Linked DNA regions of Homo sapiens: region 1 is linked to region 2. The links come from fine-mapping of genetic effects on gene expression. A gene starts in region 2. The other region holds a variant in brackets. All regions are shown on one strand. Distances are between the middles of the regions. Region 1 overlaps TXNIP (thioredoxin interacting protein). Region 2 holds the start of PIAS3 (protein inhibitor of activated STAT 3).

The links.
Region 1: its variant is fine-mapped to the expression of PIAS3 in whole blood (TOPMed, PIP 0.94).

What each region holds. Positions count from the first base shown.
Region 1 is chr1:145,982,006-145,994,471 of GRCh38, reverse strand. TXNIP (thioredoxin interacting protein) reads left to right here. Exons shown (of 8, transcript NM_006472.6): 6 at 35-191; 7 at 305-456; 8 at 586-2,037. The coding sequence ends at 621. Among named protein-coding and RNA genes, the nearest start is that of TXNIP, 8.3 kb to the left of the region's middle. RefSeq lists an enhancer at 1,685-1,764. The variant TC/C (reference allele first, on the strand shown) is at 5,093.
Region 2 is chr1:145,853,501-145,865,966 of GRCh38, reverse strand. It overlaps PIAS3 (protein inhibitor of activated STAT 3), which reads left to right and starts at 6,886. Exons shown (of 14, transcript NM_006099.3): 1 at 6,886-7,000; 2 at 8,961-9,378; 3 at 9,536-9,620; 4 at 9,849-9,899; 5 at 10,141-10,231; 6 at 11,087-11,221; 7 at 11,404-11,509; 8 at 12,081-12,154; 9 at 12,303-12,463. The coding sequence starts at 6,977. RefSeq lists silencers at 6,080-6,289, 6,760-6,849.

The sequences.
Region 1 (12,466 bases), 130 kb before region 2:
CTCTGGTGTAATAAACTGCCATCTTCCTTTCTAGATCTATGTTAGCGTTCCTGGATCCAAGAAGGTCATCCTTGACCTGCCCCTGGTAATTGGCAGCAGATCAGGTCTAAGCAGCAGAACATCCAGCATGGCCAGCCGAACCAGCTCTGAGATGAGTTGGGTAGATCTGAACATCCCTGATACCCCAGAAGGTGAGCCAGACCTAATGTCTTTTCTTTGTTTCTGGTCTACCTGGGTTTGTAAAATTGTGATGGTCCAGCATTTCTTGGGCAGGATTCTTATGTGGCCATATTTTCTTTTCTAGCTCCTCCCTGCTATATGGATGTCATTCCTGAAGATCACCGATTGGAGAGCCCAACCACTCCTCTGCTAGATGACATGGATGGCTCTCAAGACAGCCCTATCTTTATGTATGCCCCTGAGTTCAAGTTCATGCCACCACCGACTTATACTGAGGTGAGGATTGTCATCTTTACTGTTAAATTTGTCCTAAGCTTTCTATAAGAAGTTGACTTAGACGGATTGCTAAACTGGTTTGTTCTTTTTGTTCTTACCTGAACTGAAATAGTCTGTTTCTTTCTTTAGGTGGATCCCTGCATCCTCAACAACAATGTGCAGTGAGCATGTGGAAGAAAAGAAGCAGCTTTACCTACTTGTTTCTTTTTGTCTCTCTTCCTGGACACTCACTTTTTCAGAGACTCAACAGTCTCTGCAATGGAGTGTGGGTCCACCTTAGCCTCTGACTTCCTAATGTAGGAGGTGGTCAGCAGGCAATCTCCTGGGCCTTAAAGGATGCGGACTCATCCTCAGCCAGCGCCCATGTTGTGATACAGGGGTGTTTGTTGGATGGGTTTAAAAATAACTAGAAAAACTCAGGCCCATCCATTTTCTCAGATCTCCTTGAAAATTGAGGCCTTTTCGATAGTTTCGGGTCAGGTAAAAATGGCCTCCTGGCGTAAGCTTTTCAAGGTTTTTTGGAGGCTTTTTGTAAATTGTGATAGGAACTTTGGACCTTGAACTTACGTATCATGTGGAGAAGAGCCAATTTAACAAACTAGGAAGATGAAAAGGGAAATTGTGGCCAAAACTTTGGGAAAAGGAGGTTCTTAAAATCAGTGTTTCCCCTTTGTGCACTTGTAGAAAAAAAAGAAAAACCTTCTAGAGCTGATTTGATGGACAATGGAGAGAGCTTTCCCTGTGATTATAAAAAAGGAAGCTAGCTGCTCTACGGTCATCTTTGCTTAGAGTATACTTTAACCTGGCTTTTAAAGCAGTAGTAACTGCCCCACCAAAGGTCTTAAAAGCCATTTTTGGAGCCTATTGCACTGTGTTCTCCTACTGCAAATATTTTCATATGGGAGGATGGTTTTCTCTTCATGTAAGTCCTTGGAATTGATTCTAAGGTGATGTTCTTAGCACTTTAATTCCTGTCAAATTTTTTGTTCTCCCCTTCTGCCATCTTAAATGTAAGCTGAAACTGGTCTACTGTGTCTCTAGGGTTAAGCCAAAAGACAAAAAAAATTTTACTACTTTTGAGATTGCCCCAATGTACAGAATTATATAATTCTAACGCTTAAATCATGTGAAAGGGTTGCTGCTGTCAGCCTTGCCCACTGTGACTTCAAACCCAAGGAGGAACTCTTGATCAAGATGCCCAACCCTGTGATCAGAACCTCCAAATACTGCCATGAGAAACTAGAGGGCAGGTCTTCATAAAAGCCCTTTGAACCCCCTTCCTGCCCTGTGTTAGGAGATAGGGATATTGGCCCCTCACTGCAGCTGCCAGCACTTGGTCAGTCACTCTCAGCCATAGCACTTTGTTCACTGTCCTGTGTCAGAGCACTGAGCTCCACCCTTTTCTGAGAGTTATTACAGCCAGAAAGTGTGGGCTGAAGATGGTTGGTTTCATGTTTTTGTATTATGTATCTTTTTGTATGGTAAAGACTATATTTTGTACTTAACCAGATATATTTTTACCCCAGATGGGGATATTCTTTGTAAAAAATGAAAATAAAGTTTTTTTAATGGAAAAAAAAATGTCTGTGAGATGGCTTTGGAAAAGTTTTTGGAAAGAAGGTGTGTCTAAAGGAGTTTTCCTCTACTTAACAATCCACACTAATGAAAACCTTGTGGAGAAAACACTCCCTATGGACCCTAAGGAATGTCGGCAGAGTGGGGGCTAGAAGGTGAAGAGGGAAACCGTTTGAGGCATGTTTCAGATTCACTGAACAACTATACTGGGATTTTCCGGTTGTCTAAACTAGTTTTCCAAATCCATAGGTAATCATTACTAAATTCCTTCAGTTTTGGAGTTCATGGGTTCTTGAAATACAGGGAGATGATGTTTATGAGGGCATTTGAAAGAAAAGAGTGGCGGTTCCTTTTTTTGAGACAGTCTCACTCACCCAGGCTGGAGTGTAGTATGATCTTAGCTCACTGCAGCCTTGATTTCCTGGGCTCAAGTGATCTTCCCATCTCCGCCTCCCACATAGCTGGGCTACAGGCATACACAACTACGTTCAGTTAATTGTGTGTGCGTGTGTGTGTGTGTATGTGTTTGTTTTTTCTACGCTCAGCTAATTTTTTGATTATTTGTAGAGTTCGGGTTTTGCCATGTTGTCCAGGTTGGCCTCAAACTTCTGGGCTCAAGTGATCTGCTGGCCCTGGCCTCCCAAAGAGTTGGGAATACAGGCGTGAGACACCACACTCAGCTGAAGATCCCCTTTTTACAATATGGTTTTATCATAGGGTTTCTTCCCAATGTAAACTTGATTTATATACTAACAAGGATAACTTCAGGACTTAAGAGGTTATAGAGTTATGAGTATTAAATTCTTTGGAGGCAGCTAACCATTTTTTATTTTCACAGTTCCTAACCAAGCACATAACTCAGTAAATGTTTGCTAACTATTCAACTTCACCCTCATCCCTTAGATGATTTGATGGTTCCTATTCCTTGTAGGGTAATAGTAGTAGAGTAATACCACAATCCCATGTTTAATTGGTGTGATTTTCTTTCTTTCTTTCTTTCTTTCTTTTTTTTGAGATAGAGTCTTGCTCTGTCTCCCAGGCTAGAGTGCAGTGGCCCAATCTTGGCTTAATACAATGTCCGCCTCCCAGGTTCAAGCGATTCTGCTACCTCAGACTCTTGAGTAGTTGGGATTACAGGCATGAGCCACCACACTCAGCTAATTTTTGTATTTTTAGTAGAGACGGGGTTTCACCATGTTGGCCAGGCTGGTCTCGAACTCCTGACTTCCCGTGATTCACCCGCCTCAGCCTCCTAAAGTGCTGGGATTACAGGTGTGAGCCATGGCGCCCAGCAGTGATTTTCATTCCTAAAGAACCGACAGGTGGAGAAACCCTGGGATGGCCAATTTAAATATTTGCACAGATCTGGTCCTGGTCCTTATTTGGGAATTGATTTTTCTGAGGACTTCCACAAACTAATTCCAAATAACAGGCTCCTGGAAATTCTACATGAAATCAGTGTGGGGTGTTGTAGCTCTAGCTACTCACAAGGCTGAGGCAAGAGGATCATTCAAGCCCAGAAGTTCTAGGTTACAGTGAGCTATGATTGCACCACTTGCACTCCAGCCTGGGGGACAGATTTTGTCTCAAAAATAAATAAATAATAAGCAAACTAAAATCAATGTGAATTTAACAGAAAGTGAGATTTAAAAGATCCTTTTCCATTTCAATCCTCATTTTTCGTTTATCTTTCATTTTCCATAGCACTCTCCTCCCTCTCTTTGTCTCTCTTTCATTACCAAAGTGTCAGTCTCTATTTCTCCCTATTGCCAGGGTGACTTTCACCTGAACTCTCCGCCCCTTTCTCACCTGTGCAAGAATTTAGTGGCTCCTCTCCTTCAAATCTGTGACCAGGAAATTAGGTCAAAGTTGATGGAAAAGTTTTTTCTGTAGCTTGTTTTCCAGGGCCTAGAGGGGTGAAGCAATGATAAGAGCAGGCCAGAGAGCAGGACAAAGGAATGGAGAGACCATGGAGTACATGAGCCTGGTTGTGTGCACAGTTGGGCTACCAGTACCCAATATGAGAAGAGGGATGGCTTCGAAAGGATAGATAACTTTATACCCAAGGCCTCTTAGAGATCTGATCCTAGGGCCAGGCGCGGTGGCTTACGCCTGTAATTGCAGCTACTCGGGAGGCTGAGGAAGGAGAATCACTTGAACCCAGGAGGTGGAGGTTGCAGTGAGCCCAGACTGCACCACTGCACTCCAGCCTGGGCGACAGAGCAAGACTGTCTCCAAAAAAAAAAAGAGATCTGATCCTGGAAGGGCCAGAACATGGGCATCTCCTCCGGATACCCTTAATATCCTTTATCCAGCTGTCCAAATAGAACTTTCTATGATGATGGAAATTTTCAATACAGTAGCCACTAGCCCTGAAATGTGGCTACTATGACTGATAAACTGATTTTTTTTCTTATCTTTTTTTTTTTTTTTTTAGATAGGGTCTCATTCTGTCTCCCAGGCTGGAGTGCAGTGGCACAATCTTGGCTCACTGCAGTTTTGACCTCCCAAGCTCAGGTGATTCTCCCACCTCAGCCTCCCAAGTAGCTAGAACTACAGGCACATGCCACCATGCCCAGCTAATTTTTTCTATTTTTTGTAGAGACAGGGTTTCACCATGTTGCCCAGGCTGGTCTTGAACTCCTAGGCTCAAGCAATCTGCCCACTTCAGCCTCCCAAAGTGCTGTGCACACATTTTTTTTTTTTTTTTAAACAGGGTCTTGCTCTGTCTCCCAGGCTGGAGTGCAGTGGCATGATCTCTGCTCACTGCAGCCTCCACCTCTCAGGGTCAAGTGATTTCCCATCTCAGCCCCCTAGTAGCTGGAACTACAGGTGCATGGCACCAAGCCCGACTAATTTTTGTATTTTTCATAGAGATGAAGTTTTGCCATGTTGCCCAGGCTGGTCTCAAAACTCCTGGGCTCAAGCGATCCTCCCACCTCAGCCTCCCAAAGTGCTAGGATTACAGGTGTGAGCCACTGTGCCCAGCCTGTAACTGAATTTTTAATTTTGTTTAATTATTTATTTATTATTATTATTATTTTTTGAGATGGAGTTTCTC[TC/C]TTGTTGCCCAGGCTGGAGTGCAATGGCGTGATCTCGGCTCACTGCAACCTCCACCTCCTGGGTTCAGCGATTCTCCTGCCTCAGCCTCCCAAGTAGCTGGGATTACAGGCATGCGTTACCACACCTGGCTAATTTTGTATTTTTAGTAGAGATGGGGTTTCTCCATGTTGGTCAGGCTGGTCTTGAACTCCCGACCTCAGGTGATCTGCCCATCTCAGCCTCCCAAAGTGCTGGGATTACTGTGCCCGGCCCAATTTTGTTCAATTCAATTAAACTTTAGCTTTCTGTGACTAGTGACTGTCACATATGTGACTAGTGACTAGTGACTAGTGACTGCCATATTGAATACCACATCAAAATCTAAGGGAGTAAGCAGCTAGAGCTGTTCCCCCAGAGGAAACCTATCCTTCTCTTACAGCACAAAAACTCCACTCTACTTCTTTTTGCCTTGTGTATACAACTTCTACCTCACCCGAGGACATTTTCCGCGTACAGGCTTGCTTCAGTACACTTCCTTGGGGAGTGGCTTAGCTATTTCCCCACTTAAGTGGGGGAATATTCTGGGTCTTCTTTGCCTATCCTCTTCTCACGTGCCTTTTAATTTTTAAGTAGCTATGACCTACATGTACAATGATTAGAGGAGATGTGGTTCTGAGTATCATTTATTCAGTAGGTTTAATCTGGTATAGGGAGATCTGAGAGAACTAAAAAAGAAAACTACCTAAAGAGAGAAAAGGGCAAGAAAATAAAATTAACAAGAAAAAGGGGCCGGGTGCTGTGGCTCATGCCTGTAATCTCAGCATTTTGGGAGGCCAAGGTGGGTGGATCATTTGAGGTCAGGAGTTTGAGACCAGCCTGGCCAACATGGTGAAACCCCGCCTCTACTAAAAATATAAAAAATTAGCCAGGCGTGGCAGGCACCTGTAGTCCCAGCTACTTGGGAGGCTGAGGCAGGAGAATCACTTGAACCTGGGAGGCAGACATTGCAGTGAGCCAAGATCACGCCACTGTACTCCAGCCTGGGAGACAGAGAGAGACTCCTTCTCAAAACAAAACAAAACAAAAAACAGGTACTTCAACAACCAGAGTCATTGGCTGCCTTGATTGATACCTCTGAACAGACTGGAAACACAAGGATCTAACTTGGGTTGAGGCACTGGGAAGGAAAAATGTGGAGGGGAGGATCTGACAAAGCACATGTTCAGCAAAAAACAATCACACAAGAGCTGAAGGGCATGAAGTGGAGTCAAGGAGTGACCTTTGCACAATTCTTTTTTCTCTTTTTGAGAGAGGGTCTCACTATGTTGCCCAGGTTGGAGTGGAGTGGCTATTCACAGGCACAATCATAGCAAACTCTGACCTTGAACTCATAGCCTCAAGGGATTCCCCCTACTCAACCTCCCATGTAGCTGGGACTACAGGCACACGCAACCTTGGCCCAATTCTTTCAACAGACTACAGATCCCTCTTAGAATTATTTTCTTGGGCTACCTCTAGGTGATAAAATGCATAAGGTGAATAAGGAAAATATTTTACTGACCTTCCAATGATCACAAGTCCCTGCCCCCAGGCATCCTGGCCTCAATAGTTTGGGGATGGGGGATGGGAAGTTTTTTTGTCCTTTCTCTGTTGTGACCTCACATCGACCTCCATTTCATAAGCTGAAACACTCCTTTTCAGAGAGCTAAAGATCCAGGGCTGCAGGTCCTGGCACAATAGGTAAGTCTAGAACCCAGAAAAAGTCCAAAGATTAGTCTTCCTATACTATTAAGAAAAAATAGGCCGGGCACGGTGGCTCACGCCTGTAATCCCAGCACTTTGGGAGCCGAGGTGGGCGGATCACCTGAGGTCAGGAGTTCGAGACCAGCCTGGCCAACATGGTGAAACCCCATCTCTACTAAAAATACAAAAAATTAGCCAAGTGAGGTGGTGCGCACCTGCAGTCCCAACTACTTGGGAGGCTGAGGCAGGAGAATTGCTTGAACCCCAGAGAGGGAGGTTGCAGTGAGCAGAGATCATGCCACTGCACTCCAGCACCTGGGTGACAGAGCGAGACTCTGTCCCAAAAAAAACAAAAAAAAAAAGAAAGAAAAGAAAAGGAAAAGGAAGAAAAAATAGCATAGTATAGTAGTTAAGCACGTGGACACTGAAGCCAAACTATCTAAATTAAGATCTTACTTCTACCATTTAACCAGCTATGTGACCTTGGGCAACTTGTTTAAACCTCTCTATGTAACAGTTTGTTTATTTATAAAATGAGAGATAATAATAATGCCTACCTCAGAAGATTGTGAGAAATTTAAAAATATATGTAAAATTTAGAACAATGCCACATAAGTGATTGTTATCTAAAATAAAAGAAGAGACATATCCCTCATTACCCCCCTGATTAATTTACTTTCTTTCTTTCTTTTTCTTTTTTTTTTTTTTTGAGACAGAGTCTCACTCCATCACCCAGGCTAGAGTGGAGTGGGGCGATCTCAGCAACCTCCTCCTCCTGGGTTCAAGCAATTATCTCGCCCCAGCCACCCAAGTAGCTGGGATTACAGGCATGCACCACCATGTCTGGCTGATTTTTTTATTTTTAGCTGAGGTGAGGTTTCACCATGTTATCCAGGCTGGTCTCGAACTCCAGACAGCTCGACTCAAGCTATCCGCCTGCCTCGGCCTCCCAAAGTGCTTGGATTACAGGAGTGAGCCACAGCACCCACTTAGCCTCAGGGTGTTCTTTTTCACACTTCCAGTGTGCTTCACAAGCCTGTGGATTAAACCCTGTAACCTTCTAAAAATTATTTGAACTTTCTTAACTTTTCAGTACACAACTCCAAAGAAAAGCTTCCCACCATTTGGAGTGATAAACTGAGGAACAGAGAGTGCTGGATATACAATGTGATGCCACAGGTCTTCCAGACTTTTTCTTTCAAGGTATTGCATTCCATTTGATTTTTCTGTGGGGTGGACTAGACTGAGGAGCACAAAGGTCAATGGAGGTGAGTCCACGGATGAGGCCCAGTTTAGCCTATTTAGGCTATTCTTGTTCTGTCCCGACCTTTCCCTTTGCTTGACCCTTCCCTACTCTCTGCTGGGCCTGTTATGTAAGGAGAAAAGAATGAACAGACTTTGACTATCAATTGATTGGTCATCTCCAGGCAACAGAGTGATGGGAGAAAGAAGACAGGGAAAACAAAGGTACAGGATTGTGAATTCCATGTGCCCTGAGTCCTGAGATGTTAGGCAACGTCCATTCTCAGTCCTTGTTGGGCTATGAAGTTGCTGACAATCAAAGTTAATCAAATGGTCAGTAAACAGGTTCTTGGAAATGTCTGGCTAGGTTCCCAGCTTGGATATTTTTAACCTCCTGGACAGATGGATAGAACAAGGATTTCAGCTGCTGAGAGGGGAGGAGGTATTCAGGGGCATAAGAACTGTGCTTCCTTTTTTTTTTTTTTTTTTTTTTTTTTTAAGAGATGAGTCGCACTCTGTCACCAGGCTGGAGTGCAATGGCGCAATCTCGGCTCACTGCACCTCCGCCTCCCGGGTTCAAGTGATTCTCCTGTTTCAGCCTCCTGAGTAGCTGGGATTATAGATGCTCACGACCACGCCTGTCTAATTTTTGTATTTCTAGTAGATACGGGGTTTCACTATAGATCCGCCTGCCTTGGCCACCCAAAGTGCTGGGATCACAGGCGTGAGCCACCGCGCCTGGCCAACATTTGTGCTTCCCTTATATGGTTCTGTGGCTAAAGATCCCTCCCTCTCCACTTCAGATTCTGACTTCCTCCTTCATCTAGCCAGACTCAGGGTTAATCCTTTGTTTCCTGCTCTCCCATTTCTCTTTATTCCCTGTCTTTCATGCTTGCTTCACCTTCCAACTCTGAGGAAACTCTGGTTTCTGTTTTACCTCTGGATTCCTGTAGATCAGGAAGAGGGTGGTTGGGCAGGGGCCAATGGCTCCTTTGTTTCCCCTGGAGATAGGTGTAGCTCTGCCAGTAGTACTCAGAGGCTTCTCTGCAGTTCTATCTCCTCAAGCTGTCCCGCAGGACAGCTTCAAACTCTCCTGCAAACTCATGCATCCCACTGCCCCCAACTCTTGGGAACAGAATTTGACACCCTGCAAGCCCAGGCCTGTGCTTCACATACTTTTGGAAAGTAGAAGAAATGATCGTGAAGGTCAGAGAGGTTGGAAATGGTGACCAAGTCTGACAAGGCAAGATCTGCTATCTCTGGTTTGGGAAAATTAGGTCACCTGGAAGGTGGAAGGGCTGGGAGAGAGGTCGATCATTAGCAAGTTCAGAATATCTTTTTGACTGTGAGGGAGGCCTGGAGGTTAGGAATGAAAGTGAGGAAGGAGAGACAAAAATTATGATAATTCCCTATTTGGGGTTTCATCTTCCCCTGGTGAATACCCTTTAAACTGAATACCCTTCTATATCCAAAGACTGCTTTCTTCTTTCCTCTTGTTCTTTCCTGTATCTCAACACCATTTCTGATAGTGCCCACCCTGCTTTGTGGTTGGAGGAGAAAATCCCTGACACAAGTGCTCCAAGATTGACGGGAAGCTGGTGGGGAGATGGACTTAGGTAGGGAAGGGAGATCACACTGTGATTCATGTTTCTCTTCTTTTGTCTTGATTTTAGCTGATGATGAACCTAAGCAAAGCTGGAGGAAACACTAAGCCAGAGGCAGCAAATCAGGGGCCCATAGGCCAAACCAGCTTGCAGACATTTAGAAACCCATATTTCCGGCTGGGTGCGGTGGCTCACACCTGTAATCTCAGCACTTTGAGAGTCTGAGGCAGGCAAATCACCTGAGGTCAGGAGTTAGAGATCAGCCTGACCAACACGGCGAAACCCCATCTCTACTAAAAATACAAATTAGTTGGGCATGGTGGTGCAGGCCTGTAATCCCAGCTAGTCAGGAGGCGGAGGCAGGGGAATTGCTTGAACTTGGGAGGCGGAGGTTGCAGTTAGCCGAGATCGCACCATTGCACTCCAGCCTGTGCAACAAGAGTGAAACTCTGTCTCAAAAAAAATTAAAAATAAATAAATAAATAAATAAACCTGTATTTCCTTTCCTAAACATTTGAATCGGTTGTAAACATTTAAAAATCAGATTTCACTAACATCTACCGTTCTGGTGTCTCTTAAAAAGCAATCATATTTGGTAACACTGAGTCACATTCTTTCATGGCATTAATCAGCTGGAGCTGAAGGGGCTAGACAGGCTCTGGTTTGCCAGTTCTCACCACTCCCTATTGCATTACACTCACATGCTTCGATCTTTTATATCTGCCTGACTCCTGTTTAGTGTTTAGGTTTGTCTTAGTTTGTTACCTCTGCTCTAAGTAGAGCTTCTCAAATATTTCTTCTGCAGGACCCCTAAGATACAAGAGAGTGAACCATTTTCCCCCAGGACTCCCAAAGCAGTCTAAAGTAGCCTGTCATAACCCAGAAATGTCTTTGAAGTACCTATTTTCTTTAAAAAATGCAAATTTTGATTTACACTGCATAATATATTTGTGTTGGTTTTAGCATAAAAATGATTTATCTTCCCCCACCAAATCTTAAAAGTAAAATTAACACTCTGGAAGATGTGCCATGTGTATTCTGTGGCTCCAAATAGTCTTCACCATATCACCCTAGGAATAATCCAATTTAAACAGCACTGTATAAAGGCATGAGGTAAAGAGAGACATGGAGAAAAGACACAGAGAAAGAGTCAAAAAGAGGAAAAGAATTTGAAAAACAACAAGAATGAGTCTGAGTGACAAGCTTTCTGTCTGGTCCTCAGCCAACCCTCCAGGCCTGGCCCAGTCCAGCCACTGAGAAGTGTATAAACATCCCTGATATCTCTGGACAGGTGTTAGTGTGGCGGCTCAGGGTAGAAAGCAAGACCCAAAACAGGAGCCAAGCCAAGTAAGGGAGAGGTGAGGGATCCAGAGCAGCCAAGTATGGTCAGATGAGAAAGATTGTCTAGGTGTGCCAGGAAAGAGGCTTGGAAAGGAAATGGAAGACTTAGAAAAGGGCTGATCAGCATTTGCCCTTTCTCCCACTGAGCCCATTTTGTGTCACTTCCTCTTATCACTCTGCCTAAGAAAAATGAGGTACAAGCATTAAATTGTCCTCCTTTGAAGAGGGAATTTCTTCTCCAAAATGGCTACATCTCTGGTCATACCAGAGCCTAAGGAGGATGAGTACCAGGGCTTCTTTCCCTGTCCAAATGGGACTCTACCTATTCTCTCCAAGACAGGAAATACCTCAAATCCACATCCCTAACTTAGGTGAGTTTCTTCCACCTACCCCTTTTGGTAAGACAAAAATAGGTCTAACTCCCTCCCTCCTAATCTAATATTATCAGCACTGCCCTGAGTGTACCAAAGAATATCAGAGACAGGATTTGGATATTTTCCCCCTTTCTCTACTGTAAACCAGGATCAATGTGGAATCACAAGGATGGGAACTATTCAGGAAAGGGCTGGGAGCACAGCCCAAAGCTGAGGATCCTGGGAGGAGGAGAGGTTTGAGAATGGAGAATAATCCCAGACTCTGAGGTCGTGGGGACCTAGCCCCTTCCTGCATTGGTTGGGATCAGGCCTAAGGAATCTCTGGATTCCTTCCCCAGCATCTTGACATCTTGGATTCCCAAGGTGAGAGCACCTAGCCATTACGGTCCCGCAGTTAAGCTGGATCATTGTCTTCCCACTGACCCCCATTAAGGTTATGAGGGGGACCTCCCTTCTTTCCTAGATACAAAGAGGCAAATTAAAGTCTATTGGAGATGAGCCAAAGGCCTTTCTGAGGTGATAGCAGGAAACTGGAACTTATTTCCAGTTTTGTGGTCCCAAATGACCTTGAGGAAATGTGAGCCCCAGAAGGGGAAAGGTCAGTGGAGAAGAGGTCACTACTGGTTTGGCCAGATTAGTTAGTGGAGCTATTCTCGTTGAGCTCATTTCTCTTCTCCATCCTCTGGCTGGACATGACATACGAGGGGAGATGAAGAGGACATGCCCACCAGCCCCTTCTTCAGTCAGAAATCTACTGGTGGCCTGTTTGATTTGAGTCCTGGCTTGCAGATTGTGACCTTGAACTCTGCTGTAGGTGGTGTCCCTTTCTTGCTAGTTGATGGAATTGTTGATCTTCTTGCTACCCAAGCTGAAGCAGGTTCTTGGAAACGACTGGCCAGATGCCTGAGGTATCTTTAGTCTGCCTAGGCTGAAAATAAAGTGGGGAAATCCAGCGAATGGAATGTGTTCAGCCAAAGCTAGGCACATCCTGCCTTTGTTCTCAGGCCCATTTGAATTCTTACAGATGGATCAGCATAAGCCCTACTATGTGAGAGCTAGAAGGGCTCCCAGTGGACACATCTAGTCCAA
Region 2 (12,466 bases):
CTTTTTTTTGTTTTTGTTTGTTTGTTTGTTTGTTTTGAGGCAGGGTCTTACTCTGCTGCCCAGGCTGGAGTGCAGTGGCATGATCATAACTCACTGCAGCCTCAACTTCCTGGGCTCCAGTAATCCTCCAACTCAGCCTCCCAAGTAGCTGGGGCTACAGGCGAGCACCACCACAACTGGCTGATTTTTCTGTATATTTAATAGAGACCAAGTTTTGCCATGTTGCCCAGGCTGGTCTCAAACTCCTGGGCTCAAGCGATCCACCTGTCCCAGCTCCCCAAAGTGCTGGGGATTACAGGCATGAGCCACTGTGCCTGGCCATCTCTATATTATCATACACAGTGGTTTCGCTGCCCTAAGAATCCTCTTTGCTCTGTCTGCTCATCTCCCCATCCCTGCTAACCCCTGGCAACCACTGATCTTTCTCCCATCCCCAGTTGTGCTTAGTTGGAATTATACAGTATGTATCCTTTTCAGACTGGTTTCTTTGAGTTAGTAATATACATTTAAATTTCCTCCATGTCTTTCCATGGCTTGATAACTCACTTATTTTTAGTACCGAATAATATTCCATTGTCTGAATGTGTCACAATTTATTTATCCATTCACCTACTGAAGGACATCTTGATTGTTTCCAAGCTTTGGCACTTTTTTTTTTTTTTTTTTTTTTTAGCAGAGTCTCACTCTATCACTCAGGCTGGAGTGCAGTAGGGCAGTCTCAGCTCACTGCAACCGCCGCCTCCTGGGTTCATGCGATTCTCCTGCTTCAGCCTCCCGAGTAGCTGGGATTACAAGTGCATGACACCACATCCAGCTAATTTTTTTCTATTTTTAGTAGAGACGGGGTTTCACCATGTTGGCCAAGCAGTCTTGAACTCCTGACCTCAGGTGATCCACCCACCTCTGCCTCCCAAAGTGCTAGGATTACAGGCTTGAGCCACCATGCCTGGCCTTGGCAATTATTTAATTTGTTTTTGAATGAAATTCACAAATGGCCCTATAAGTCAGCAACTTTCAAACTTTTTGATCCCTAGTAAGAAATAAAAAAAAATTTTTTTGAGGCAGAGTCTCACTCTGTCACCCAGGCTGGAGTGCAGTGGTGTGATCTCAGCTCACTGCATCCTCTGCCTCCTGGGTTCAAGGTATTCTCATGCCTCAGCCTCCTGAGTAGCTGGAATTATAGGCGTGCACCACCATGCGTGGCTAAGTTTTGTACTTTTTGAAGACACAGGGTTTTGCCATGTTGGCCAGGCTGGTCTCAAACTCCTGTCCTCAAGTGATTCTCCTCCCTAAGTACTGGGATTACAGGTATGAGCCACTGCATCTGGCCAAGAAATACATTTTGTATCTTGTGTATACATAGCTCGAATAATACTTTACTATTTCTCTTCTATTCTTTGCTAATATACTCCATCAAAATGCATCCACTAATGGGTCAAGACCCACGGTTTGAAAAATAGCCCTCAGTGAAAATGGGGTTTGACACTCTTCCTTTCCACTTTCTCGAATCTGTCACAGCTCTAATCTTTTTTCTCTGCCTTGGGACTGTTGAATCCATGATTTTTTTTTTTTTTTTTTTTTAAGGGGAGATTGAGAGACCTGGATTTTCTTCAGGATATACTTTCTAAAGTATTTTATCAAGTGTTAAACAATGTGTCTATATTTGACACACATGGTCTCACTGTTCTTTGTCCCAGGTGACAAAAGGGATGAAAAGTCTGATTCCTGGGTAGAGGATGAAGGGATACCCAAGTTTCATTTTTGCCTGTGATTCCATTCTCAGACTGAAAAAAAAAATGTATCTCTCTTGGCCACTTCCCCTGGGTCTCCTCCTCTGCCTGCCCTTCCACCAGGCATGCTGTTAGGTGAAAATGAGGCAGTGAATTCCTCTAAAATCTGGAATTGCAGTTTGGTGGCCCGCACGCTGATCCCTCCCCATTCCTTCTCTCAGTCCACCCTCTGCTTGGTTACACTGGGTCAGACAGCAGCAGTTTTGGCAGTAAAGAGGCTGGGTTGAGAAAAAAGAGTGGGGAGGGGCTGCCATGGAAGACAGGGGGCTACACAAGGGCTGCAGAGGCCAGCTCCAGAGTTTGGCCAAGAGTGAAAAAGAGCATCTGAGATATCTGGATCAGATCCTAGAGAAGGTGCAGAGGTTTTACGTGGATGGGCACGGGACTGCTTTACGGCCAGGAAAATGGAAAAAGGAGGGATTGATGGAGAAAGGGGGAAGAGGTGCAGCTATTGAAGAAAGATCATCAAAAGGGTCTGAGTCATTTCTATCAAGGGGAACAGAACCTCTCCTTGCCTTCCTGCTCTCAATTACCAATGTATATTAAAGGACTATTACATTTCTTGTTATATATGACGTGTGGGGTGGGGAGAATGAAGAAACTGTAGAGAGAAGGGTCCAGAAAGGGGGAGATCATTGGGCTAAACTCAAGAATGAGTCAGGAAGCAGCTTTGGTAATGGAAGCCAGGACTTTGGCTCCCTCCGGGGCTCCTGGAAACTGATTCCAGGATGGGCTGAGCTATGGGAGTGGTGAGTGATGTTAATGTTAACACAGGAGTAGAAACTTCCTTAGCCCCTGGTTTTCCCAGTCTCCCTCCCTAAAACTCCACAAACTTACCTCAACAGCCCCAGTCTTAAAATTTTTCTTGAGTTCATAAATTTTTTTCCCCAAAGTAGCTATAATCCTAATGTTCCCTTTATTCCTCCTGGGCTCTCTAATGGGACTTAGCAGGGACTTATGATTCCTGCTTCATCTCCCCACCCCATTCCCCAGGCTTGAGATGTAGGAGTATGTGGGTGAAAGTAGGTGAAACCCGATGGGCCATGATCAGGTTCAGACTATGTTTTTGAATGCCTTCAATCTGGAACTTTGCTTCTGATTCACAGTTTCCCTCCTTTGGTAACATTAATTTATTAAACAGATATTTAAGGAGTCTACTATTTGTCAGGCACTGGGAATAGAGTAGAGGCAGCACAGAAAACCTTCTTATCCTTTTGGAGCTTGCATGCAGGATAAGATTCAGGTTCCCCGGTTCCGTCATCCTGTAGGGATGCTAGAACTTATAACCTCAAATTAACTTTTTTCCAATTTATTTTTTCTCTCTTTCAATAACTTTAGTAACCTCAAATTAATTTTTTTTAGATGTATTATTGCTCTGTCACCCAGGCTGGAGTGCAGTGGTGTGATCTCAGCTCACTGTAATCTCTGCCTCCCTGGTTCGAGTGATTCTCCCACCTCAGCCTCCCAAGTAGCTGGGACTACAGGCATGCGCCACCACACCTGGCTAAGTTTTGTATTTTTAGTAGAGATGGGGTTTCACTATGTTGGCCAGGCTGGTCTTGAACTCCTGACCTCAAGTGATCTGCCTGCCTCGGCCTCCCAAAATGTTGGGATTACAGGCGTGAGCCACCATGCCTGGCCTTCAAATTAACTTTTTTCGTTTGTTTGTTTGTTTTTTGAGACGGAGTCTTGCTCTGTCGCCAGGCTGGAGTGCAGTGGCACGATCTCAGCTCACTGCAACCTCAGCCTCCCGGGTTCAAGCAATTCCCCTGCCTCAGACTCCCAAGTAGCTGGGATTACAGGCACACGCCACCACGCCCGGCGAATTTTTTGTATTTTAGTAGAGACGGGGTTTCACTGTGTTGGCCAAAATGGTCTCGATCTCCCAACCTCATGATCCGCCCACCTCGGCCTCCCAAAGTGCTGGGATTACAGGCGTGAGCCACCGTACCTGGCCCAAATTAACTTTTAAAGGAGATTCTTCCTTCATGAAATCACTAGAACTCAAGGTGAGGTTTTCTCTTAAATGTTTACAGCTTTATTTATTTATTTATTTATTTATTTATTTATTTATTTATCTAGAGATGGAGTCTTGGTCTGTGCCAGGCTGGAGTGCAGTGGTGCAGTCTCGGCTCACTGCAACCTCTGCCTCCTGGGTTCAAGCAGTTCTCCTGCCTCATCCTCCTGAGTAGCTGAAATTACAGGCGTGCGCTGCCACGCCTGGCTAACTTTTTTGTATTTTTAGTAGAGACAGCGTTTCTCCATGTTGACCAGGCTAGTCTCGAACTCCCGACCTCAGGTGATCCGCCCACTTCAGCCTCCCAAAGTGCTGGGATTACAGGCGTGAGCCACCGTGCCCAGCATTTACAGCTTTACTTATTTTTTATTTTATTTTATTTTATTTTTTTGAGACAGAGTCTCTGTCGCCCAGGCTGGAGTGCAGTGGCGCGATCTCGGCTCACTGCAAGCTCCGCCTCCCGGGTTCACGCCATTCTCCTGCCTCAACCTCTCCGAGTAGCTGGGACTACAGGCGCCTGCCACCACGCCCGGCTAATTTTTTGTATTTTTAGTAGAGACAGGGTTTTACCGTGGTCTCGATCTCCTGACCTCGTGATCCGCCCGCCTCGGCCTCCCAAAGTGCTGGGATTACAAGCGTGAGCCACCGCGCCCGGCCATTTACAGCTTTATTGACGTACAACTGATATACGTCAATATGTCTCTCCATGTAAAATGCATGTATTTGAAGTATACAATTTGATGTGTTTTCATATGCATATACACCCATAAAACCATTACACAATCGAGATAATGAACATATCCATCACTTCCGAAAGATCCCCGCTTTGTCTCTTTTTAATAATCCTCCCTACCTTCCTCATCCTGCAACTACTGAAAATTCTTAGAAATACAAACTATAGTAACTTTTGATCTAGAGGACTGAACAGAACAACAGCAAAAAAGATCTCAGGACCTGATGAAGACTCAGGTGTTGGAAGGGAGCAGCTGGAATTTAGAACTAGTTGAGTCTGAGTTTAGCTTGAAGCGCTCACCAATTTGGGTAGCAAAGCAGCAAGGAAAGAACCTGAGTGTTAGGAGAGGGTGGCATCTTCCCTAGGGACAAAAACCACAAAGTAACTGGGCCTAGTTCCAGTTCAACTGGCACCTTCAATCTTTGGCCTGGGTAGGGTCTTATGAGGAGGATTATACTGAAGGCTTAAGCTAAATAAAAGGATTTTTCCTATTTATTAAAGCCCTTTTTTGGTGTGCTGATTATAGGTTTAACATGTCTTGTCTCTGCTGCTAGACTGTGAACTCCTGCAAGGCTTTTATGTCCTCAGCACCTAATGATCCCTGATAAGCACTCAAATATTTATTGAACAAATTGCAGCCAACTATAAAATGCTGTGAGTTTCTCAGTATGTAGTGCGGGTACATTTCCCTTAAGTTGGTATTTTCTGGGTCAGGCGCGGCGGCTCACGCCTGTAATCCCAGCACTTTGGGAGGCCAAGGTGAGGCGGGCGCATCACGAGGTCAGGAGTTTGAGACCAGCCTGGCCAATATGGTGAAACCCTGTCTCCACTAAAAATACAAAATTAGCCGGGCGTGGTGACGCAGGCCTGTAATCTCAGCTATTCGGGAGGCTGAGGTAGGAGAATTGCTTGAACCCGGGGGGCGGAGGTTGCAGTGAGCCAAGTCGCGCCACTGCACTCCAGCCTGGGTGACAGAGTGAGACTTGGTCCCCCCCCAAAAAAATAAAAAAATAGGTATTTCCATGGATACAGAAACAGATTTAATTTGGTGCCTGCATGTGAGTGATCAGCTTGGTTGGGATGGGGCCTCTGGAGGGTCCAAGGCTTTGGAGGAAGGAGAGTGGGTAGGCAGTTCAGAGAGGGACAGAAAGATCCCTTTTGTGGGTAAGAAAACCCCTCTGTTCATCTTCAGCTACACCAAAGGTATGGGGGCTCTGGTGGAGGTATTCTGCACGTGTATCTAGGGTAGTTACTGTTAGGTACACTTTGGATTCAGTACCCCAGGCTTTGCCCTAGGGAGGGACAGTTGTCATTTCAAGGAAGACTGCTTTATACTGTCAGATACCTGGTTCACACCGGCTTAGCAGCAGTGTGCCACCACCCCAATCCCATACGTAAGCGTTGAGGGGTCACAGAGGTAGTGAGAATGATGGGATCCAAGGATCTCGTCTCTCCAGATCCACTCACACCAGGAGTTAATCTCTCCAACGTCGAGCTCTGAGTCCCTCCCTCTCTCGCCCGAGCTCCGCCCCCCTTCCCTCTTGGCGGTCCTGGCGGGCTTCCCCTGGAGGGGGCGGCCCCAGCCCGAGCGCTAGGCCGGGCGGAGCTCCGGCCCGGGCGGAGCCGCGGCCGCCGCGTCCGGCTGCTGGACCGAACTTCTGCCGTGCGGACAGCAGGAGCAGCGCCGAGCCCCATTCCCCCACCTCTCCAGCTCGCCCTCTGAGCCTCCCGAGCCCTCTCTCCATTTCCCACAATTGTGCTGGTAAGTCCCGCTCCCCGCACCAAACTTTTTTTTGCTGCCGAGTTTGAGTCCTACGATCGGACCACGAGCTGCACTGTAGTTGGTGTATGGGGGAGGAGGAGAGGGTGAATTACTGAATGCCGACTCCACGGCTTCCCTAAGACGGATCAGCGCTCGCCCATTTCCCGAGTTGGAAGACCTCTCGATTTTAGTTGATTAAACTTATGCAGAGATGGAGATGAGGGTTTGCGCTCCAACTTCGCTACCCCCTCCCCCATTTCTCTGAGCTCTAGCAGTTCCCGATACTTTCCCTCCATCTTTCAAGTATCTTTGGCTCCCTAAAAGCTTGTCCCCTCCCAACTCTGCCGTGGCAAAGCCCCCCTCCACCAGGCACTTCGGGCCCGCCTCCTCCCCGTTGCCCTAGGGACCCCGCGATCTTGGGGGCCATACACTCCCTCCGGGGCTACGCGTCCTGCCAACCGGCCGCAGACGTGTAGCTGCTGGGTCGGCTGTGGAGGGAGGGGCTCAGGCTGGGGCTTGTCCGAAGCCAGGCGGGCGGGGCCGGGAAGGGGAGGTATAGGGGGCCGGACTGGGCGGAGCAGGCGGCATTTGCGGCCGGCGCCAGGGTGGAGAGTTGTGCGCCGGTCCCTGGGCCTGAGCTCCGGCTCCGGCTGGGGCGCCTGCGATGTCTCAAGATGGCGGAGCTGGGCGAATTAAAGGTACCGGCCCCCTCCCCCCATCCCCATCTGGACTCAGCCCGGCGGTACGCCGTGTCCGGGAAGCGACCGAGACTGGGTGCCGGGGCTCGGGTGGGCGCCGACGACGTGGCAGGCACGAGCTGCTGAGGATGGGAGAGAAGTAGCTGAGAGCGAGGAAGGGGCTGCGGCGGGGCTCCGGGGGCGGGGCTGCGGGGCAGATGTAGGGGTGGGGCCGAGGGGAATTGCAGCTGTTGGGGGCTGAGGCGCAGGGGGCGGGGACGAGGGGTAGAAGTCGGATTTAGTAGTAGGGGCGGTTGTTGGGGTAGGGCCAGGGGGAAAAGGTGCTGTAGAGGCACTGGGGGCGAGTCGATCAAGGCCAAGAGATGCAACAGTAGGGGGCACATGCAGGGATGGGACCGCGGGGCAGACGTAGGGGAGGCTCCGGGGGAAAGGCAGCTGAGAGGATAGGGTCTTTGGGGCTACTCTCGGGATCCGAGCTTTGGGAAATACCAGTAGGCTGCTGAGATGCAGGGGGCGGGGCTGTGCGGGCCGATACCTCGAGGGGTGGGGCAGAAGCATCCTGGAGGCTCAGAGGAAGGTCCTGCCGTAGTGAATCGCGGTGTTTGGGAAGAGGCAGAGGCATGTGAAACTATGGGATAGAAAGGTGGGAAGTTATAGGGGAAGCTAATGGAGAAAAAAAGACAGGACAGAGGAGATAAGGATGGGGAGAAAGAGGAGCAAGTTTCTCATCACATTCCATAAAAGGGGTCCAAGACAAAGCCTCCTATGAGAAGAATTGTGTAGGGCTAGCAAGCCCTGCACATGACAGGATCTCCTAGAGATTCACAGAAGGGAGTCTTCTAAGGAGAGCGCTCCCCTCCTGCTACATAGAGTTTGGAGGGTGACCACATCTGAGGACATCTCATAGAACCTCAAACTACCGAGTTCATCCGCCTGCCTCCTGGTTTTCTTCTGCCCTTTGAAATGGGAGCTATGGTCCTGGGAAGGCTGGAGGTCTAGCCACTGGGCCCAGCTACCTTCAGGGGATTTGCGATTCTGTGCCCTGACTCAGAGGCTTTTCCTTCATCCACCCAGGGTCTCTGTTTAGAGCTCTGCCCTCTCCTCTTCCACCCCTATAGGGGGGCGCTGTAAGTTGTAGAGGAGTATTAATTTCTCTGTGTAGGAGAGATGCCAGATTATGGTTCCTGGCAGATAGAGTAAACAGGCAGGATACTTGGACTCAGTGATTCACTGTTAATCTCCCCGACCCAAGTTTTGGTCCTGTTTCCCTTCCAGAAAAATAGGACTAAGTTGTGGGGAGGGGGTGGTTATATAAACGATTCCAAGAAAGGATCTGGGGAAGTTATGAGCATTGAACCCTGACCTGAAAACCCTGGCCACAGAAGCTTCAGAGGCTTGGGGGAAATAGCTGAGGTGAATTAAGGTGGTTGGGAGGGGTGGGCTGAAGGGCACAATCCTCCAGCCACCTAGCCCCTTTCTTCCCGTGGGGCTGTCTGGCTTGAATCCTCTTGTCTCTCCCTCCTTCTCCCTGTCTCCTATCCTGTTCCCAGGAGGCTGGGATGGGTTTGAGAGTCTGAGAAAGGGCAAGAGAGGAGATAAGCAGCTTAAAGCAGAGTCCAGGGATGGAGGCGGGAGGCTGCATGGACTCGGAGGTGTGTCTGAGGGTGGCTTGCTGTCTGCCATTCCCTGCCCCACTCTGGCTGCTTCCAGGCCTGGGGAAATAGTGTTGCTCAAGCTCGGGGGTGGTGGTGATGATGCTGACCTGATGGTTGCTAAAGTGGGACTGAGATGTCCCTTTGGATAGGTCGACTACCTGGCAGTAATCCACTAGCTGCGAAGCATCATCTTTCCCATCAGTGCTGGAGAGAAAGGCACTGCCCACCTGGTAGCTCAGCCCATGTCTTGGCAGGGCAGGCCTGTGCAAGGGAGGATGCTCAAGCTTCTCTGTTTTTCTCCACAGCACATGGTGATGAGTTTCCGGGTGTCTGAGCTCCAGGTGCTTCTTGGCTTTGCTGGCCGGAACAAGAGTGGACGGAAGCACGAGCTCCTGGCCAAGGCTCTGCACCTCCTGAAGTCCAGCTGTGCCCCTAGTGTCCAGATGAAGATCAAAGAGCTTTACCGACGACGCTTTCCCCGGAAGACCCTGGGGCCCTCTGATCTCTCCCTTCTCTCTTTGCCCCCTGGCACCTCTCCTGTAGGCTCCCCTGGTCCTCTAGCTCCCATTCCCCCAACGCTGTTGGCCCCTGGCACCCTGCTGGGCCCCAAGCGTGAGGTGGACATGCACCCCCCTCTGCCCCAGCCTGTGCACCCTGATGTCACCATGAAACCATTGCCCTTCTATGAAGTCTATGGGGAGCTCATCCGGCCCACCACCCTTGGTATGGCTCTTTGTGGTCCCTTAGTCTTCTGGACTCCCTACCTGTTCCCCAAACATTTCTTAGGCTTTAGTCCTATGGGATCAGTGACCTGGGATGGGGGCGATTTCTGTGGCTGCCTGTGCATGGGCTTGGAATAACTGCCCCTTTGTATCCTCAGCATCCACTTCTAGCCAGCGGTTTGAGGAAGCGCACTTTACCTTTGCCCTCACACCCCAGCAAGTGCAGCAGATTCTTACATCCAGGTACATCTCTTCCAGTCTTCCTGCCTCATCCCTGGTCTCTGCTTTCTGACTTTCTTCTCTTCTGCCCTGTGCTCTTCCCTATCCCTCCTCCTATACCTACTTGTCTCTTGTTCTTCTGTGTGTCTCTTCTCTATCTCCTGGACATCTGACTTTCAGCCTTTCTGTGCATTCACCCTTGCCCTCTGGGGGCTACATGCTGACATCTCTTCATCTCCCTCCCTGTTACAGAGAGGTTCTGCCAGGAGCCAAATGTGATTATACCATACAGGTGCAGCTAAGGTGAGTTCATCCTCCCTGCCTATCCTGGGTACCCACTGGGGGTAGGAGTGAAGTAGGGGTATGACAGATACCCTTACGAGATGTCCCTGCTCTGCCACTGCCTACTGCAGCCCTGCGACTCTTGTTGGATGCTGAGGGCTTCAGGCATCTATGACTGATTTTCTGGGGTTCCCTGTCTCTCTGCCAGATTCAAGTTAAGAAATTTCTTCCCACTCTTTCTTCCTTTCTCATCTCTTACCAGGTTCTGTCTCTGTGAGACCAGCTGCCCCCAGGAAGATTATTTTCCCCCCAACCTCTTTGTCAAGGTCAATGGGAAACTGTGCCCCCTGCCGGTAAATGCTCTCCCCTTCTTCTGTCAGTAATCCCTTACCGTTTCAGTTCATAAATATTAACTACAAACCTATTCTGAAAGAGACATGCCTAGCACAGTGCGTGGCACATAGTAGGTGCTCAGTTTACTGACTGAATCAATAGAATCTCGAGAGTATTAAGATAGGGCTGAACAAAGGTTTTGTGAGAACTCGGAGGAGGACATTAGTTCAACCCGAGATGTAAGAAAGACTTCTTTTTTGTTTTTTTTTTTTGAGACAGAGTCACTCGCTCTGTCACTCAGGCTGGAGTGCAATGGTGCAATCTCTGCTCACTGCAACCTCTGCCTCCCTAGTTCAAGCAATTCTCTTGCCTCAGCCTCCCAAGTAGCTGGGATTACAGGTGCCCACCACCCTGCCCGGCTAATTTTTGTATTTTTAGTAGAGACGGAGTTTTACCATGTTAGCTAGGCTGGTCTCGAACTCCTGACCTCAGGTGATCCACCCACCTCGGCTTCCTAAAGTGCTGGGATTACAGGCATGAGCCAGTACACCCGGCCAGAAAGACTTGACCCCAGAGCTGAGAGTTAGAAAAGGTGAGGCATCCTTATTCCTCCTCCTCAGGGACTCAGTGAGTTCCTTTTTTCTCAGTCAATAAATAAGCTCTCCTTTCTCCCCAGGAGTGAACCCCACACATAACCCTAGACAGTGCTCCAGTTTTGTGAGCCACTGAATGGGCCTCCATCCCCTTGGTCAGTGAGTGAGCGAGTTGGCCTTCCCTCCAGGGATTGAATAACCCGAGACAAGATATCTTTTGTTCAAAGAGCAGAGCCCCTTCCCAGAGCCACTTCTCCACTGACCAATCCCTCCCTTCTCCAGGGTTACCTTCCCCCAACCAAGAATGGGGCCGAGCCCAAGAGGCCCAGCCGCCCCATCAACATCACACCCCTGGCTCGACTCTCAGCCACTGTTCCCAACACCATTGTGGTCAATTGGTCATCTGAGTTCGGACGGGTGAGCACAGCTAAAGCAGGTGCCTGGAAAAGCCTGCTGAGGGTGAAGGGGAACCATCCAGTGTCCTGGGTTGGGGAAGCATTTTCCTCTTTATGAGTCTGTCTCTGGTCCTCATGGAACAAAAGTGGGCAGTGGTGGTATGAGAAGCAGAGGCTAATTGTCTACCCCCTGCCTCCAAGTAGAATTACTCCTTGTCTGTGTACCTGGTGAGGCAGTTGACTGCAGGAACCCTTCTACAAAAACTCAGAGCAAAGGGTATCCGGAACCCAGACCACTCGCGGGCACTGAGTGAGTAACATCTTTCCTCTCTTCCCCACCTGATCTGGATTCAAGTCTTCCTGGCCCTCCAGCCTTCATAATTAAACCCATACCTCTTTTTTGACAACTTACTCCCCTTCTCACATGAACCCCAACCCTCCCCCTCTACCCCTGACCAGTCTTCCAGTCTTTATAGTTGAAGTTGGACCACTCCCAGGCACCCTTGAATTTCCAATCATGTATCTGCTTTGCACCTCACAGTCCCTAACTCCAGCCCTGCTAGAATATGGGCTCTCCGGACTGGAAAGAATCTTAGGGGTCCTCTAATCTAACCCTCACATGATGCTTCAACTCCTCCAGATCATCTCTAACATAGCCAGAGTGTCACGCTATGTTTAAGCATCTTCAGGGATGGGAAAATCCCCCACACCCAGCCTTCATCATCCATATCCCAGACCACTTCCATGTGACGTCCCACTGGCCCCCAAAGACGCTCCACCCAGCAGCCTCTCAGCCAGAGCCATCTGTTCCTGGCCTTACCAACTCCTGGGCTTCCTCCAGCCTTGCTGACCCCATGGCTCTGGCCTCACTTTTGTTTCAGTCAAGGAGAAATTGACTGCTGACCCTGACAGTGAGGTGGCCACTACAAGTCTCCGGGTGTCACTCATGTGCCCGGTGGGTAAAAGGGGAGAAGGGAACAGGGTGGGAAGGGAGTTGGGTTTAGCCTGTGGACTTTGATGAGGGTTCCTAGGGATACTGGCGTGAAGTTTTCTGGGATGAAATCAGAGTAGGGCCTCTGACAAGAGAACTTGCTTCTCCTCAGCTAGGGAAGATGCGCCTGACTGTCCCTTGTCGTGCCCTCACCTGCGCCCACCTGCAGAGCTTCGATGCTGCCCTTTATCTACAGATGAATGAGAAGAAGCCTACATGGACATGTCCTGTGTGTGACAAGAAGGCTCCCTATGAATCTCTTATCATTGATGGGTA